Homo sapiens: one gene and its partner. The protein of the gene in region 1 purifies or fractionates together with the protein of each later gene. This does not show direct contact. Each region holds a gene or a part of one and is shown in the gene's direction. Other genes may lie near its edges.

Region 1 (8,814 bases):
CCTATTTGTGTCAACAGAACATACTTACTGTGAAGTTGTGATGCACAATAAGTATTAATATATTCTCTTGACCCAAGTAGGTTGCATGAACAGCTCAGGTGGGTTCAGAGTGGCTCAGCTATGAGGGGCTGCCTAGTTACTGAGAAGCTTATTATGGAGCTCAGAGAAGTAGTCAGGGCTGACTCTTAGAAATGGCAGCTCTCCTGTTTACCTGTAATCATTTCAGTTGGAATTACAAAGCAGGTCAGCTGAAAAGAGTCAGCCTGTGAAGCATTGTATTTAACTTGGATTCACCTGGAAAGGTATCTTGTCTCATTTTTGCCTTTATCACCCTTGAGTCTATTTGGTTTCAATTTTAGAATGAGGAATTTAATGACAGATACAGTGATGTAACATACTGTACATACACTCCATGAAATTTAACAGATTTTACTTTTCATATTGAGGTGAGGTTTTCTATTTTATTTTTTAAGCAAATGAACTATTTAGTAACCGCAGGTCACTAAACGGTATTTACTAATAGCATGTCACCTATAAACTTAGTCATTTGTACAATGAACTTTTATTATGCAGGTGACACTTAATTTCTGTGAAATTCAACAGATTTTTTTAGACTAGGTTGAGGTTTGGGGTTTAATTTTTTAATATTGCTTTTGAGCAAATGAAATATTCACTGACTGCAGGTCATGAAGCAATAAAATACTTATATAATAAATCACTTATACATTCATGCAGTTTTTTACATAATTAAGTTTATTTATTTGTTGAGATGCAGTCTTGCTCTGTCACCCAGGCTAGAGTGTAGTGGCGTGATCTAGGCTCACTGCAACCTCCACTTTCCAGGTTCAAGCAATTCTCCTGCCTCATCCTCTTGAGTAGCTGGGACTACAGGTGCACACGACCATACCCGGTTCTTTTTTTTCTTTTTTTTTTTTTGTGTTTTTAGTAGAGATGGGGTTTCACCAATGTTGGCCAGTCTGGTCTCCAACTCCTGACCTCAAGTGATCCGCCCACCTCAGCCTCCCAAAGTGCTGGGATTACAGGCATAAGCTACTGTGCCCACCCATACACAATGAAATTTATTGTTTCTATTTAATAAAAGGAGTACTTGCTAGTTGCTAGTGATATAAAGATGAATGAAACACAGTCTCTACTTCGAAGCAGTTCAGAGTTTAATATAGAAAGACATAAAACTGTGATAGATACCAAGAAAGAGAAGAGATTGAAAAACAAAGTGAAGGGAGCAAAGAAGGAAGGCCTAATTCTAGTGGTAACTATAACAGTCTGGGTGGTCATTTAGACTAGAGAAGATAGACTACTCTGATAAGTATCTAGGAACACTTTGTGGGTGGTGGGACAAGTTAGGCCCTGATGACTGATTGGATGTGGTGGTGGTAAGAGTGACATGACCACTGGGACTGAAGGGATAGCAATGCCACCAATTAAGAGAAAATTTAAGAGTAGGTTCAGAGGAAGTCAGTGAGTTTCGATTGGAACACATTGAGTTTGAGGCAGCTATGAGCATTCCAGGTGCATTCACTCGTTAAATAATATGCTGGCTATTGAGGTTATGGTGGTGAAAATCCACCGTTAGATTTTACTGCTTCCCTGAGATGTAGCAATCTGAAATTGGGTGGAGGGGATAGGGCTGGAGATAGACTTGGGGCTCCTTGGTTTCCATGTGGTTGCTCAAAACACGAGGCTGGATGGCATTGCCCAGGAAGAGTATGCAGAATAGGAAGAGCCATGGTCTGAGGATAGAACGTTAGGGAATACAAGCATTTAAGGGTAGGAGGGGACTTGAAGAAGTGGGAGTGGGAACCATTTGGCAGGAACAAGAGGAACCAGGAAAATGCAGGAAATACTGGGAAGGGTTCGAGACCAGAAGTGGAGAAATTATGTCAGATGCTGCGAAGGCTCTAATACTATAACGTTTATAAAGCCCTTGTAACAGTGTGGTAAAGGGCTTATATTTTAACATTTAGTGAAAGCAGGTCCTCATATTTTCTATACAGTAAAGTCTCAAATGTTTAAAGATGCATAGGGGAAAAAAGCTGATTAGTCTAAAATGATAACAATGATTTTCATTGGATGGCTGATTTTTTAATTTTCTTCATAATTTTTTGTATTTTTCATGCTTTCTACATCAATCATGTGATACTTTTATAATTAGGAAAAAAATCTTAAAAATAGAGCCATAGAGCCCATTATAACAGTTGTATTTGTCTAAAGTAGAAAGGCTGCCTGCCTGTTAGATTATATTATATATGGGACAGCCAAATTGATTTTCTGTTCTTAAACTGTTTTGGTCAATGGAATAAAGTTTTGGGGGCTATTAGGGACTAGCAGATTAGTGTCTGCTATTTTATAGATGTTGATGGAAAAATAAAATGACTATTATAGCTATTGTGTATCATTACTTGTCTGCTTGGTTCAACAGACTTGGTTTCTCATAAAATAGATCCTTATTCCCACCTGAAGAATTAAGAACTTGCACTGTGAAAACGTGATAAAATTACATGTTCTATTATTTTTTCCTCTTTTCTAGATAGAAGTGGATTCTGTGATGTCTTCAATAAATCCAAATACTTCTGGTAATATGAAAGTTAATATTAATTTTTAGTACCTTATTTAGACACTGAGATGGCTTGGCTGTGTCCCTACATCAGTCTCATCTCAAATTCCTATGTGTTGTGGAAGGGACCTGGTGGAAGGTAACTGAATCATGGGGGCGGGTTTTTCGCATGTTGTTCTCATGATACTGGATAAGTCTCATGAGATCTGATGGCTTTATAAGGGGGGGCTTCCCTGCACAAGCTCTCTCTTTGCCTGCTGCCATCCATGTAAGACGTGACTTGCTCCTCTTTGCCTTCTGCCATGATTGTGAGGTTTCTCCAGCCACGTGGAAATGTAAGTCCATTAAACTTCTTTCTTTTCTAAGTTGCCCAGCCTTGGGTATGTCTTTATCAGTAGCATGAAAACAGACTAACAACACTCACAAAATGAAAATTAAAAACAGAAACTAGGCTGGGTGCAGTGGCTCATGCCTGTAGTCCCAGCACTTTGGGAAGCCAAGGCAGGTGGATCGTCTGAGGTCAGGAGTTTGAGACCAGCCTGGCAAAGATGATGAAACACCGTCTCTACTAAAAATACAAAAAATTAGCTGGGCGTGGTGGCAGGCACCTATAATCCCAGCTACTCTGGAGACTGATGCAGGAGAATTGCTTGAACTGAGGAGGTAGAGATTGCAATGAGCTGAGATTGAGCCATTGCACTCCAGCCTGGGCGACAAGAGTGAAACTCTGTCTCCAAATAAATAAATAAATAAAAACTATATAGCATTATATTTAAGCACATCTTTATTTTGTTTCCCGTTGTCCAAAAGAAAGGTTTTGGTGGTTTTTATTTTTTTTTAATTTTTAATTTTTGTAGGTGTATATATAGAGAGGTGGTACATGAGATGTTTTGATGTAGGCATGTAATGTGTAATAGTCACATCATGGGAAATGGGATAATTATCTCCTCGAGCATTAATCCTTTGTGTTACAAACAGTCCAGTTACACTCTTAGTTATTTTAAAATGTTTATCATTTTGACTCTAGTCACCCTATTGTGCTATCAAATACTAGGTATTAATAGTCACATCATGGAGAATGGGGTATCCATGCTATGAAGCATTTATCTTTCATGTTACCAAGAATCCAATTATACTCTTTTGGTTATTTTTTAATGTACAATTAAGTTGTTATTGACTATAGTTACCATTCTGTACTATCAAATACTAGGTCTTACTCTATTTTTTTTTTTTTGTATCCATTAACCATCCATAACTCTCCCCAACATCCTCACTATCCTTCCCAGCCTCTGGTAACCATCCTTCTACTTTCTATGTCCATGAATTAAATTGTCTTGATTTTTAGATCCCATAAGTGAGAACATGCAGTGTTTGACTTTCTGTGCCTTATTTGACTTAACATAGTGACCTCCCATTTTCATCTGTGTTGTTGCAAATGACAGGATCTCATTCTTTTTTATTGCTGAATAGTACTCCACTGTGTATGTGTACCACATTTTCTTTATCCATTCATCTGTTGATGGACACTGAGTCTTCTTCCAAATCTTGCCTATTGTGAACAATGCTGCAACAAACAGTATATGAGAATGCAGATATCTTCCATATGTTGATTTCCTTTCTTTTGGGTATATACCCAGCAGTGGGATTGCTGGATCATATGGTAGCTTTATTTTTAGTTTTTTGAGGAACCTCCAAATGGTTCTCCATAGTGATTGTACTAATTTACATGCCTACCAGCAGTTTAATAAGAGCTCCCTTTTCTCCATATCCTTGCCAGCGTTTGTTATTACCTGTCTTTTGGATAAAAGCCATTTTAACTGTGGTGAGATGATATTATTGTAGTTTTGATGGCATTTCTCTGATCAATGATATTGAGTACCTTTTCACATATGCCTGTTTGCCATTTGTATGTGTTCTTTTGAGGTTCTTTTAATTTTGATTATTTATAAATATGTTTATCACAGGGAAATTTTAAACTGTTGAAGTGCATAAAGAAAAAATATCATTCATAATTTTAACATTCAAAAAATGATACTAGGTTTTCTGACTTGTGCAGCTGGATGAATGGACATGGCACCTACTGAAAAGAGAAGATGGCAGACGGGTGGGGCGGTGGGGTGGGAGCAGGGGGCAGGCAATACCTGGGGGTGAGGGAGACTAAGAGCTCAATTTTGAGTATGTTTGAGAAGTGTTAGTTTACTATGTCAAAGCAGTCAGATTGGATGAATTTCAGAAGTAAGTTCTGGGCTGAAGAAATTGGGAGTCATCAACCTGTAGACAGATTTTAAAATCATGAGAATGAATGAGACCACCTAGAGAGATAGAGTGGACTGAGAATGTTAAGAACTCTAGCCAGTAGAAGTCAGGTGGAAGATGAAGAAATGGCAAAGGAGACTTAGGAGTGACAGAGGGGCAAGAGGAAAATCAAGAGTGTTTGATCAAAAGCCAAGAGAAGTAGATATTTTAATGAGGAAGGTGTGGTCAGCACTATCAAATGCTCCTGAAAGGTGAGGTGGCATAACTGATGAGTATCCTTTGGAGTTGGCCACCTGGAGGTGTTTGATGACTTTAGCAAGAGGCATTTCAAAGTGTGGTGAGGGCAGAGTGGGTTGAAGATAAGTGGAAAGTGATGATGAAGTGTGACAATGTGAGTAGATGAGTCTTTTGTTAAGTCCAGAGTGGCAATAGATCAAGAGATGTTTTGTTTGCTTCTTCTTGTTTCTATTTAAATGGAAGAACATGTTTCCAAGCTTAGCAGAATGATCTAGTGAAGAGGAGGAAGGAAGATGAGAGAGAGGGAGGGAAGGAGACCTATTGTGTAAGGGGATAGGATCCAGAGCATGTTAGATTGGCTTTTTAAATATTACCTTTTTTTGAATAATTTAAAACTTCCAAAAAGTTCAAAATAAAACAGTACAGAGAATAGCTTACTCTCTGTGTAAGGTATACCTTTTACCCAGATTGACATTGTTAACATTTTACACCATCTTCCTTCTCCTTTGCACTTTCTACCACTATCCCCTTCTCTTCTGTAATGAATATAACCAAAATATGCTTATCATATTCATAAATATATGTTGATACTGTTTTATCTGATTTATCATCTATATTTTGTCAGTTGATCTAATAACATCCTTAATAGTATCTTTCCTTTTTTAGTATGTTAAAAAATCATAAGTGTATCTAGGGAAAAAAAAGACACATATGAATAGGAACAAAGATAAAAATGACAGCAGTTGGCTGGGAGTGGTGACTCACACCTGTAATCCAAGCACTTTGGGAGGCCAAGGCAGGAGGATTGCTTGATGCCAGGAGTTCAAGACCAGTCTGGTCAACATAGTATGAGACTCTGAATCGACAAAAAAGCAAAAAAAAAAAAAAAGCCAGGCATGATGGCACGTGCCTGTAATCTTAGCTACCTGGGAGGCTGAGGCAGGATCCCTTGAGCCCAGGAGTTTGAGGTTGCACTTAGCCATTATCATACCACAGCACCCCAGCCTGGGCGACAGAGTGAGACCTCATCTCTTAAAAAACTTAATTAATTCAACAGAAGGAAGAAAATGGGAACAAAAAATAGATGGAAATAGACAAGTAGAAAAATAATATGGTAGATTTAAATCCAATCATTAATGTTTTAGTTAGATGTAAATGATCTCAACAGCCCCATTGAAAGGGAGATACTGTTAAATTAGATAAAAGAGTACCAACTAACTCTGTGTTGCCTAGAAGCCCACTTTAAACATAAGGGCAAAAAAGATTAGAAATATATACTGTACTGAACACTAACCAAAAGTATGCCAAAGTGAGCATGTTAATATCAGATGAAGTAGACTTCAGAAGAAGAAATATTACCAGGGATAAGGAGAGCCAGTTCATTAAGGGAATTAAACATTTATGCCCCTGGCCAGGTGCCATGACTCAAGCCTGTAATCCCAGCACTTTGAGAGGCCAACGCAGACGAATCACTTGAGGCCAGGAGTTTGAGACCAACCATGATGAAACCCCGTCTTTACGAAAAAATACAAAAAAATTAGCTGGACATGGTGGTGCATGCCTGTAATCCCAGCTACTCGGGGGGCTGAGGCACGAGAATCATTTGAGCCCAGGAGGTGGAGGTTGCAGTGAGCCCAGATTGCATCACGGCACTCCAGCCTGGGTGACAGAGCAAGACTCTGTCTCAAAAAAAAAAATAAAAAAAAAAAATCCCCTAATAATGGAAATTCAAAATACATGAAGCAAAAAACTAATAAAACTGTAAAGAAAAATGGACAAATCCATAATGATGGTAGGAGGTTGCAACACCCCTATCAATAATTAAGCAAGTAGACATAAAATCAATAAGGATATAGGAGACGTGAACAGCACTGTCAACCAGTGTGACCTAATTGTAATCTATAGAATGTTCTACCCAACAAAAGCAGAATACACATTCTTTTCAAGTCTACACAGTATATTTAATAAAATTGGTCATACTCTGGGCCATTAAACATGTCAATACATTTAAAGTACAAAGTATGTTCTTTGTGATGGAACGACATTAGAAATCAATAGCAAAGCTGTCTGGAAAAGTTGCAAATAGTTGTTCCAAGTAAAAGTTTAAAAGTTCCAAACAAATAGCACACTTCTAAATAACTCATAGGTCAAAGAAAAAATCAAAAGGGAAAAATTAGGAAGTATTTTGAATTGAATGAAAAGACCACATTTCAAATTTTGTAGGATGGATTGAAAGCAATACTTGGAAAGTGGTAGCACTAACTTTCTATGTTTAGGAAAGAATAAAGGTGTCAAACTGATGACCTCAGCTTCTACCTTTAATTATCTTCTACCTTTAACTACAAAAAAGAGTAAATAAGGCCCGAAATAAGTGGAGGAAAGGAAATAGTAAAGATTGGAATGGAAATTGTTGAAATTGAAAAGAGGACAAACAAGAAAAAATTAAAAGCTGATTTTGTTGAGGTAATCAATAAAAATGAGAAACTACTACCCACACTGAGTGGGGGGGGAAAAGAGAGCAGGGATTACTAACATTTAGATTTAAAATCTAATATTTTATTAGATTTATTATTAGATCTAATAAAATCTAATATTTTATTAGATTTATTATTAGATCTAATAAAATCTAATATTTTATTAGATTTATTATTAGATCTAATAAAATCTAATATTTTATTAGATTTATTATTAGATCTAATAAAATCTAATATTTTATTAGATTTATTATTAGATCTAATAAAATCTAATATTTTATTAGATTTATTAATATTGTATTAAAATCTAATACACTTTATGTACAAGGTTTAGAATCACATTTAAAATAAGACTTTCAGGATTATTGCTAGGAGAACATGTTCTTGATATAATCGCTAACTTGATAGAATTGCTCCAGGTTTTAAATTTCTTGTTGAAAATTTTCACTTTCAAAATATTCAGAATAATGTTTGATGTTCCATTAGTTACAACTTCTTGATAAAGCCTTTTCTACATTTTTTTCATTAGGGTTTTTTGTGAATATTCCAATCTACAGAGAGTTTTGTTTTCTGGCAAAAGGATTTCCCACATTCTTTGCATTGATAGGATTTCTCTTTCTTAAGAGTTCCCTGATATTCAGTGAGTTATTCTTTCTGGATGAAGATCTTACCCTAGTCATAATATCGTGTTTCTCTATTATGTTACTGATATGGATTGGCTGTGTCCCCACCCAAATCTCATTTTGTAACTCCCATAATTCCCACGTGTTGTGGGAGGGACCCAGTGGGAGATAATTGAATAATGGGGGCAGGTCTTTCCCAGGCTGTTCTTGTGATAGTGAATAAGTCTCACGAGATTTGATGGTTTTAAAAAGAGAAGTTCCCCAGCACAAGCTCTCTCTTGTCTGCTGTCATTCATGTAAGACATGACTTGCTCCTCTTTGCCTTCCGCTATGATCGTGGGGGCTCCCCAGCCGTGTGGAACTGTAAGTCCATTAAACCTCTTTCTTTTGTAAATCGTCCAGTCTCATCTTTATCAGCAGCATGAGAAAAGATTAATACAGTGGCTTTTCTGATACATCAAGTGTGACTATTGCTGAAGGCATTTTAACATTCATTATTCTCATAGACTTTCTTTCTTCTGTATGTTCTCTGATTTTGAATTAAGGATTTGACTTCACACTGAATGTTTTCTTTCCTTAACTAGTTCTCTAATGTGCAGAGAGGTATGGATTCTGGAAGAAAGAATACAGTCCCCACCTGTATTCTCCC
Region 2 (8,814 bases), on another chromosome or scaffold:
GAGTAGCCAGCCCCAGAATCCAGTGTCTCCCAGGGAAGACGGCTCAGCGGAAAAACCCGGTTCATGCTGACCCGTGGCTTATCAGTGCTGGGGGACCTACAGAGTGAGTCCTCTAGGCGGCACTCCCTGCCTATGCAGGAGACCCCTGGCACCATCCAGGACTCCTAGCAATGGGAGGACATTCAGCTGGGCAGAGGCTGGGTTAGATCAGGACCCACCCCAGGCTGTCTAGGCTGGGTCAGGACGCCACTCTCTGTGCACTTGCTCTCCCCCAGCTCCTGCACAGGCAGAGCACCCAACTGCTGGCACAGAGACTCAGCCGGACCTGCTTCCGCCAGTGGAGACAACAGGTGGGAACCCAGGAGATGTCCCCTCTGCACTTCCTTCTCCATCCTCTGGCCTGTGAGGCCTGGGCAGTGAATGACCTTCAGCCTACACCTCTAGTTCAGTATTTTTACTATCACCCTCCCCAGGGCCACCTCCTCTACCACCTTCCTGTCATTTCCAGGCACATCAGCTTCCTTCCGTCTGCAGTCTGCATAAGAACAGTTACTTCAAGGCCAGTTTCTCTCTCTACAGTGTTGTATTAAAAAATACATCAGTGGAGGCCGGGCGCAGTGGCTCACGCCTGTAATCCCAGCACTTTGGGAGGCCGAGGCAGGCGGATCATGAGGTCAGGAGATCGAGACCATCCTGGCTAACACGGTGAAACCCCGTCTCTACTAAAAATACAAAAAAAATCAGCCAGGCGTGGTGGTGGGCGCCTGTAGTCCCAGCTACTCGGGAGGCTGAGGCAGGAGAATGGCGTGAACCTGGGAGGCAGAGCTTGCAGTGAGCTGAGATAGCACCACTGCACTCCAGCCCGGGCAACAGAGCGAGACTCTGTCTAAAAAAAAAAAAAAAAAAAAATATATATATATATATATATATATATATAATCAGTGGGCCGGGCATGATGGCTCACGCCTATAATCCCAGGATTTTGGGAGGCCGAGGCAGGAGGATCACTTGAGCCCAGAAGTTCAAGACCAGCCTGGGCAACATAGTGAGACCCCATCTCTACAAAAACAAAACAGAAAAATTAGCTGGGTGTAGGCAGTGCACACCTGTGGTCCCAACTACTCGGGAGGCTGAGGCGGGAGGATTGCTTGAGCCCGGGAGGTCAAGGTTGCAGTGAGCTGTGATCATGCCACTGCACTTCAGCCTGGATGAGAGTGAGATTCCATCTCAAAAAGAAAAATCAGCATAATATCTTAAAAATTAACATGAAATGTGTTTTAAGGCTTTGCTGGGATCTTGCTTTTTAAAAAGCCAAGAGGGATCACACAGAGCAGCATCCACACGTCCCCAGCTCCCTCTTCCCGTTCTGTTGTCCTGTTTTCACCATTCCCCGGACCTCAGGCCGCTGCCTCCACGCATCCCCCTGCAGGAGCCCTTTGCCACCTTCTTTCATGAAGGTCATTCCTCAGGCCACAGATGGAGCGTGTGTTGAGCATCTCACCGCCAGGCACAAGGCTGGCCCTTCCTAGTGGAGGAAGTGGGAGCCTCGACTAGAGAGGGAGCCAAGAGGGACGAGCTGGGCAGGGCCCCGTGATCACCACGGCCTCCTTGAAGGGGCTATAGGGAAATGATCTGGTCTTTCTGGCCCTAGCTGGCAGCCAGGAGGCAGGAGCAGCGGGCGACAGTGCGGGCCCTGTGGTTCTGGGCCTTCTCGCTGCAGGCAAAGGTAATTGGGGCTCTGCATCCTACCATCCCTGCCTCTCCCTCAGGCCTTAGCCCTGCCTTGGGTGGAGGGAGGGCACCTGGTCTGTGGGGGAGCTCTAAGCAGGGAGACCTGGGCCTCACCTCCTGCCCTCCCTGGAGGTGTGGGCCACGTGGCTGGCCTTTGTACTGGAAAGGAGGAGAAAGAAGGCGCGGCTGCAGTGGGCGCTCCAGGCCTACCAGGGGCAGCTCCTCCAGGAGGGTGCCACGCGGCTCCTGCGCTTTGCAGCCAGCATGAAGGCCTCCCGGCAGCAGCTGCAGGCCCAGCAGCAGGTCCAGGTAGGCCCAGGGCCCCTTCCTGTGGGGAGCAGGCAGGGTGTGGCATGAGCTGACCAGAGGCTGTGTTGTAGGCGGCTCACAGTCTCCATCGTGCCGTCCGCCGCTGTGCCACGCTCTGGAAACAGAAAGTGCTGGGCCGGGGCGGGAAGCCTCAGCCCCTGGCAGCCATCGCACCCAGCAGGAAAGTGACGTTTGAGGGTCCCCTTCTCAACCGCATTGCTGCTGGGGCTGGGGATGGCACCCTTGAGACCAAGAGGCCACAGGCTTCTCGGCCTCTGGGAGCTCTGGGCCGCCTGGCTGCTGAGGAGCCCCACGCCCTGGAGCTGTGAGTAGCCTGTGCTCACCTTGTCCTCGCTTCCACCCTGGGCAAAAGGTTGGATGGCATAGCAGGGAGGAAAACAGCCCTGACGGGATGGGACGGGCTGGTCACGGCCTTGTCACAGCTGAGCTGCTGGGAACCCCCTCTTCTCCAGCCAGATCCCATCCCTCCCACGGCAAGAGGGAGAGAATGGAGTGGGATTTCCAAACCCTCTCTCCTTTGCCTGCCAAAGCTCAGGAAATAGGTGTCCCCTCCTCTGCAACACCTTCCTACCCTCTCTCCCGTCCTGCTGACACGATCTTTTCCGGAGTCATACACGTAGTTGACAAAGGGAACAAGCTCAGCTCCTACCCGTGCCTGCCGGCCTCTCTTCTGCTCCATCACAGCCAAGACACTGGCTTTTTGTCAGAAGCCCCTCTTTCTTGTGTGAGCTGGCACCTGTCCCTCTGCCCACCCCTACTATGGTCTCCTCAAACCCTAACCTGCCCTGCCCCATGCTGATGAAGCTGGTGGCTCCCACAGCAACCAGCACTACCCGAGAGCCTTGGGCCTCGGGGGAGATGTCAGGTGGGTGCATGGGGCCTGGGTCCCGGTCCCTGCTGTGCTCCTCACTGTTTGACTGACCTTGATGGGATCCTGAACGTCTCAGAGGCTGCTCCCCTGTGACATGGACCCTGGCGACCTGTACACCAGCGTCACCAGGGTTGTTCTGCAGGTCAAAAGAGACAATGTGGGTGAAGCAGTCCCCTGGCGTCAGGTACCTTTTGTCGGAACTGCTGGGAGCTCTATGGCCCAGGCCCACCCCAGCTTACTTGCTGACCTTGGCCTCGCCTTTCCTGACTTTCAGTCTCCCTATAAAATTGGAGATCCCACAGAGATCTCAGACCCCCCTGCAGCCCCTGGTCAGCCCAGGGGAACAGACCCCATGTTTCTTTCCAGCAACACTGCCCACTCAGCGAGGAAGCAGCCGCGACGCCCACACTTCCTGTTGGAGCCTGCGCAGAGCCAGAGGTCCCTGGGGTGCAGCACCGTGGGCAGGCAGGGGGAGATGGTCAGGGGTCCCCAAAGGCAGCGGGCACCTCCATGTGGGGCCTGTGTTTTGGCAGCCCTGGGGTGGGTGGCCCCCTTTCCTTCTTGTTCTTTGGTCCCAGAGGAGGGTCCTGTGGCCTGACCAGGCTCTTGCCTTCCCTGTGCTCAGGCCTCAGAAGCCACAGGAACATGGCCTAGGCATGGCTCAGCCAGCAGCCCCCTCCCTGACGCGGCCCTTCCTGGCAGAGGCCCCGACAGCACTGGTCCCACACAGCCCCCTGCCTGGGGCCCTGTCAAGCGCCCCTGGCCCGAAGCAGCCCCCGACGGCAAGCACAGGCCCGGAGCTGCTGCTGCTGCCTCTTTCCTCCTTCATGCCCTGCGGGGCGGCTGCACCAGCCAGGGTACGTCCTCCACCACCAGGCCTGGGCACTGGGGCTCTCACTCTGGTCTGACTTCTGGTGCTTTCTCATGCCACAGCTGTACTAGTTTCTGGAAAACCTTGGCACAGGGAGGCCACTCATCCATTTGACAAGCATAGGTAGCCACTGCACACCAGGTCCAAGGGCCACAGCAGTGAACAGCCAGCCAAGGGCCCTGCCATCCTGAAGCTTATATTCTAGTCAGAGACAAGCAAAGAAAAACCCCTGCCTGCAGGCCAGTAAAGTGGCTGCAGATCACGTAGGGTCCTGCAGGCCACAGTGAGAAGTAGCCTGGGATTTGAGAAGAGTAGGAAGTCGGGGAAGGGTTTTGGCAGGGAGCACCATGTCAGGTTTCTGTGCAGGCTGTGGTCACCATGACCACGTGGTCCAGGCAAGTAGTACTGGTGGCCTGGGCTCAGCGGTTGCCACAGAGGGGACAGGTACTCTCTTGGAGGCAGATGAGGCAGGATATGCTGCTCTGAGGGAGTTGCTGAATGAGGGGAAAGAAGGAATCCAGGCTGATGTGGGCTGCTGGCTTGAATAACTTGGGAAACAGAGTTCTTTGACTGGAAGAAGGAACTGGGGGTGGGGACTGGTTTGGGGTGAAGTGTCAAGAGTGTTTTGAACCAGGCTCTTGATGTCAAATTTGAGAGAAAGCAAACGTTGAGTCTGACCTTCAAGGAAGAGGTCAGGGCCAGAGATTGAGAAGAATCTTCAGCACAGGCCGAAGGTAACCCCAGAGCCACTGCGGCCTCTAGGAGGAGAGTACAGGGGAAGGAGAGAGGGGAGGAGGCTCCAAGCAGGGAGCCTGGGTGGGGATGGCCAGGGGGTGTGAGAGCTCAGTAATGGAAGTGACAGCTGCTCTAAGGCCACCAAAGCAGCTGGTTCCTGAAAGGGGATGAGGGGACAGGAAGGAACCAGTTCCTGTGGTGAGTTAGGCCATGTGGGGCCACTTACCCTGGCTGGAATGGTTTGAATGTGGGTTTGAAAGGGTTTTGACCCCTGTCCGGTGATGGAAGGGGCAAGTCCACTCTCACCAGGAGAGGAGGGCATGGAAAAGGCTGTAGAGCAGTGGCCTCTCACTGACCACTTCTCACTGATGTCAAAGCTCAGCAAGGTCATGAGCTTAGAGCAGGTGGGGGTGGAGGGTTGGGTAAGGCAAGGCTAGGAACAGCTGCTCAGGCAGTGGAGGCGTGAGGCGGACTGTGGTGACACGGGGTGCTCCCTGGTTGCTTGCGGGACTTTCCCCTACAGTACCAGGCCCTGTGTGCAGGGGCAGGCTAGACACTGAGCTGGCACGGCCAGTGCCTGGGAAGCCCAGCTCCTGCAGCTGGGAGCCTGGTCTTCCCCCACCCCTGCAGGGCAGGCAGTGACAAGGACTTGGTGTCCCCCTCCCTGGCTTCCTCCTAGCTTCCTTGCTCAGCATCTACCCTTCTTTCCTTTGCAGGTGTCAGCACAGCGGGCTACTCCTAGGGATAAGCCCCCGGTCCCCTCATCCCTGGCCAGTGTCCCTGACCCCCATCTACTCCTTCCTGGGGACTTCTCAGCCACCAGGGCTGGGCCTGGACTTTCAACTGCAGGTGTGTACCTGGGGCCTGTCAGGGCAGAAAGCACTCAGGCCACTCCCGGACCTGGGACTTGCTATTTACCCTGGTCCCCGAGGGGAAAATAGTCTGAAACAAGCTTACTTCTGTCGCCATAGGCAGCCTGGACCTTGAGGCTGAACTTGAGGAGATCCAGCAGCAACTACTGCACTACCAGACCACCAAGCAGAACCTCTGGTGAGCCCTGCGAAACGCCCTGCAGCCCTGGCTACAGGAGCAGGTGTTGCCTGGAGAGGTGGGCAGGCAGTTCCATTTCCCCCGAGCCAGCTGCCAGGGTCCTGTAGGTGGTCTCGGTCTAGCCATGGAGGGGTGTGGGGAGCCCTCAGTGTGTGCTGTCCAGAAAGACCCCATCTCCACCATGGCTCTCTACCCGGCTCAGTGCTGCTTAGGAAGGCCCAAGTCGTCAGACTCACCTGTGCACAGAGGCTCTGCTTCCTATGGGGGGGACGATAAAGTTGAGCAAAACTCTAAAAACCCGATGAGGCCATGCTGTCCCCAGTGACTAATTATAACACTGATATTAAAGGTGCAGAGAAGGGCCAGGCGCAGTGACTCACACCTGTCATCCCAGCACTTTGAGAGGCTGTGATCCAGGCAGATCACGGGGTTAGGAGTTCAAGACCAGCCTGGCCAATATGGTGAAACCCCATCTCTACTAAAAATACAAAAATTAGCCGGGCATGGTGGTGCACGCATGTAGTCCCAACTACTTGGAAGGCTGAGGCAGAAGAATCGCTTCAACCTGGGAGGCGGAGGTTGCAGTGAGCTGAGATCACGCCATTGCACTCCAGCCTGGGCAACACAGCAACACTCCATCTCAAAAAAAAAAAAAAATGCAGAGGAGACAGGCCCGTGACTCAGCTGCACTCAGTGGTCTGGGGACCATTCAACATGCAGCAACCTCAGAGCTTCCAGGGCAACAGACTGGCGCCTCATCCTTGGCTCTGCACAGGGGGAGAGAGACAAGGAGTGTGTTCTTGCCCAGGCCCACCTGAGTTGCTGTCTGCTGGGGAGGGCGGAGGAGACTGGGAGAGGAAAAAGAACAAGTGTTTGGCTCCCAAGCAGGGGCCTGCAGTTCAGGTCAGGGGCCCTACCAGACCACCTCTCTCCACCCGATACCCGCATCAGAATTAGCTGAGGTGCCTCTCCCTGAGCCGGATGGGGCTCTGCCAAGGACCCAGCCTGGCAGGCAGTGGGTATCTCCACCCCTCAGGTCCTGTCGGCGGCAAGCGAGCAGCCTGCGCAGGTGGCTGGAGCTGAACAGAGAGGAGCCGGGGCCTGAGGACCAGGAAGTAGAGCAGCAGGTGCAGAAAGAGCTGGAACAGGTGAGGCCCCAGGCCATCCCCAGGTGTCCCTGGGGACGCCCCGGGCTGTGCTCCCTCTCAGCCCTGCCTGTCCCTCCATGGCCCCAGGTGGAAATGCAGATCCAGCTGCTGGCAGAGGAGCTCCAGGCTCAGCGCCAGCCCATTGGCGCCTGCGTTGCCCGCATCCAGGCCCTGCGGCAGGCCCTGTGCTAGCGTGTTCGCACCAGGAACGCAGGTGCTGGGCTGTCGGGGAGGCCTCAGGCCACCTCCAGGAACAGAACACAGTTTTAAGTTTGATTTTTTTTATTTCAAAATGCTTTGCAATTAAATGAATTACTGTTCAGAAGTCTCCCACTTTTCATACAAAAATACTGTGCTACTGATACAGTTGAAAAAATTCAATGATGTCTCTCCTGCAGGAGAAATTCACAGCATCCCCAGGGTCAACATGAAATCTGGCCCTGTCCCCGCCACTGGGGGCTCCCCAGGCCTGCGTTCCTGATAAACTGGGACAGGTTTTCCAGGCACTGACCAACTATCCACCAAGGGTCCTCTGCCTCCAAGACAGACCCTGAATCAATAGCAGCAACTTTCCCATATTTCATGTAGGGATATGTGGAGGGGGACAGGAACTCTCCCATTTCCCCAGCTGGGCCTACTACCTGCCTGCCCTGTTCACTCTGGTGCCATGAGGCAGGTTCAGTGATTGATTGGTCTTGCCTGCTGCAGAGGACCTGGCCAGCTCCAGAAGGGTCACTCATCAGGTCCTGCAAAGGTCTGTATCATTAATCAGTGTCATCAGTGTCCTCAGAAGACACTAGCAGAGTCCAGGGTGATGCGTTCAGCCACAAGCACAAAGACTGCTTTTTCTAAAGAGCAGGATGAGGTGAATGTGGGAACGGAAAGCAGTTGTCACGAAGGCTGTGTGGCTCTGCTGGGGGAGAGGCATCCACAGTCTGTGCCAAGGAGGCACCTCACCCTGTGCAGCAGGAGCGTTAAGGCCAAAAAACAAAAGGGGCCAACAGAAAACAGCTCAGGTGATGGGGGGAGGAGCAGCAAGAAAAAACGACAACCGAGACCAACTGAAGGTTCGGTCAGGAATGCAGGCTCTTCCGTCTATACAGTGTTTAAAAAGATCCAAATGTGACTGAGATCATTCCAGCCTGCACTTTTTATTTGTAGGCAGAAGGAACGGGATAGGTTGAGGGGCATGATGGGGGCTCTCGCCACCTCTTGTCTGCACCTCTGGAACAGGTGGTAGCCGAATCATTCAAGTCCTACCTGGTCAGACTCCCAACCACGCTGAGGCAGGCCCTTACCTGGATGGCCTCATGGGCCTCCCTCTTGAAAAGACCCTCACTCTGTTTGGAAAAGATCCCTTAGCAGCCATAATCAGGAAAGAGACTCTAGAGCGAGCCCAGGGCTTCCCCAAAGCGGATTTTCTGTCCTGTTTTCAGCTGGAAATTGAAGTCCTTGGGGGCCTCGAAGATGAGCACGATGGTGGAGCCCAGGTTGAACTCGCCCAGGTGCTCGCCCTTACGCATGGGGACGCCCTCTCTATTGGTGTGCGTCACGAAGCTGAAGTCATTGTAGGAGCCCTTGCTGTGCCTTGGGCTGTTTGTGTGCAGGTCCTGTGGTGATAGGCTGGGGGTCAGTGGGGCCCAGGCCACCAAGTGCACAGTGTCACCCCCACATGTGTTTGGAGTCCCACTCCCTCTGTTGCTTGTCCCCACCACCACCCAACCCAGCTCCAAAAGGGAGGTGGGGATGGCATCTCAGGGCCAGGTGGGCCTGCTCTAGCCAGATCTCACACACAGCCTTGACACCTGCTGTGAACTGGGCCCAGGGAGGACAGGGAACAGTGGGGCCCAGTGGTCTCCATGCATGGTGCTGGGAGAGCAGCACCCGTGGGAGCCAAGGCCGTTGGTCACAAACTGACACCCAAAAAGGCAGCCCCTGGGGGCAGGGTGGGCAGCAGACCTGCGAGTGCTGACCCCTCATGCTGTAACCAACATGAGCCACCCCGAGCTCAACACTCCCTTTCTGTTCCCTCCTCACTCTCACCTTTGACCATGGTTCCTAGCAGAAGCCAGGTGCCA

The links.
Region 2: the proteins of EFCAB11 (region 1) and SFI1 purify together in Homo sapiens (co-immunoprecipitation; 2 studies listed by BioGRID and IntAct, with this or other methods). This does not show direct contact.

What each region holds. Positions count from the first base shown.
Region 1 is NC_000014.9:89,943,877-89,952,690, reverse strand, and holds part of EFCAB11 (EF-hand calcium-binding domain-containing protein 11), read left to right. Parts: intron 1-2,548; coding exon 2,549-2,594; intron 2,595-8,814.
Region 2 is NC_000022.11:31,611,491-31,620,304, forward strand, and holds the end of SFI1 (protein SFI1 homolog), read left to right. Parts: intron 1-275; coding exon 276-350; intron 351-1,651; coding exon 1,652-1,726; intron 1,727-1,863; coding exon 1,864-2,040; intron 2,041-2,111; coding exon 2,112-2,365; intron 2,366-3,298; coding exon 3,299-3,370; intron 3,371-3,557; coding exon 3,558-3,789; intron 3,790-5,254; coding exon 5,255-5,387; intron 5,388-5,509; coding exon 5,510-5,588; intron 5,589-6,624; coding exon 6,625-6,736; intron 6,737-6,823; coding exon 6,824-6,928; 3' UTR 6,929-7,098; downstream 7,099-8,814. Other genes in the region: PISD (phosphatidylserine decarboxylase proenzyme, mitochondrial), read right to left, coding at 8,122-8,346. UniProt on the Homo sapiens protein: Plays a role in the dynamic structure of centrosome-associated contractile fibers via its interaction with CETN2.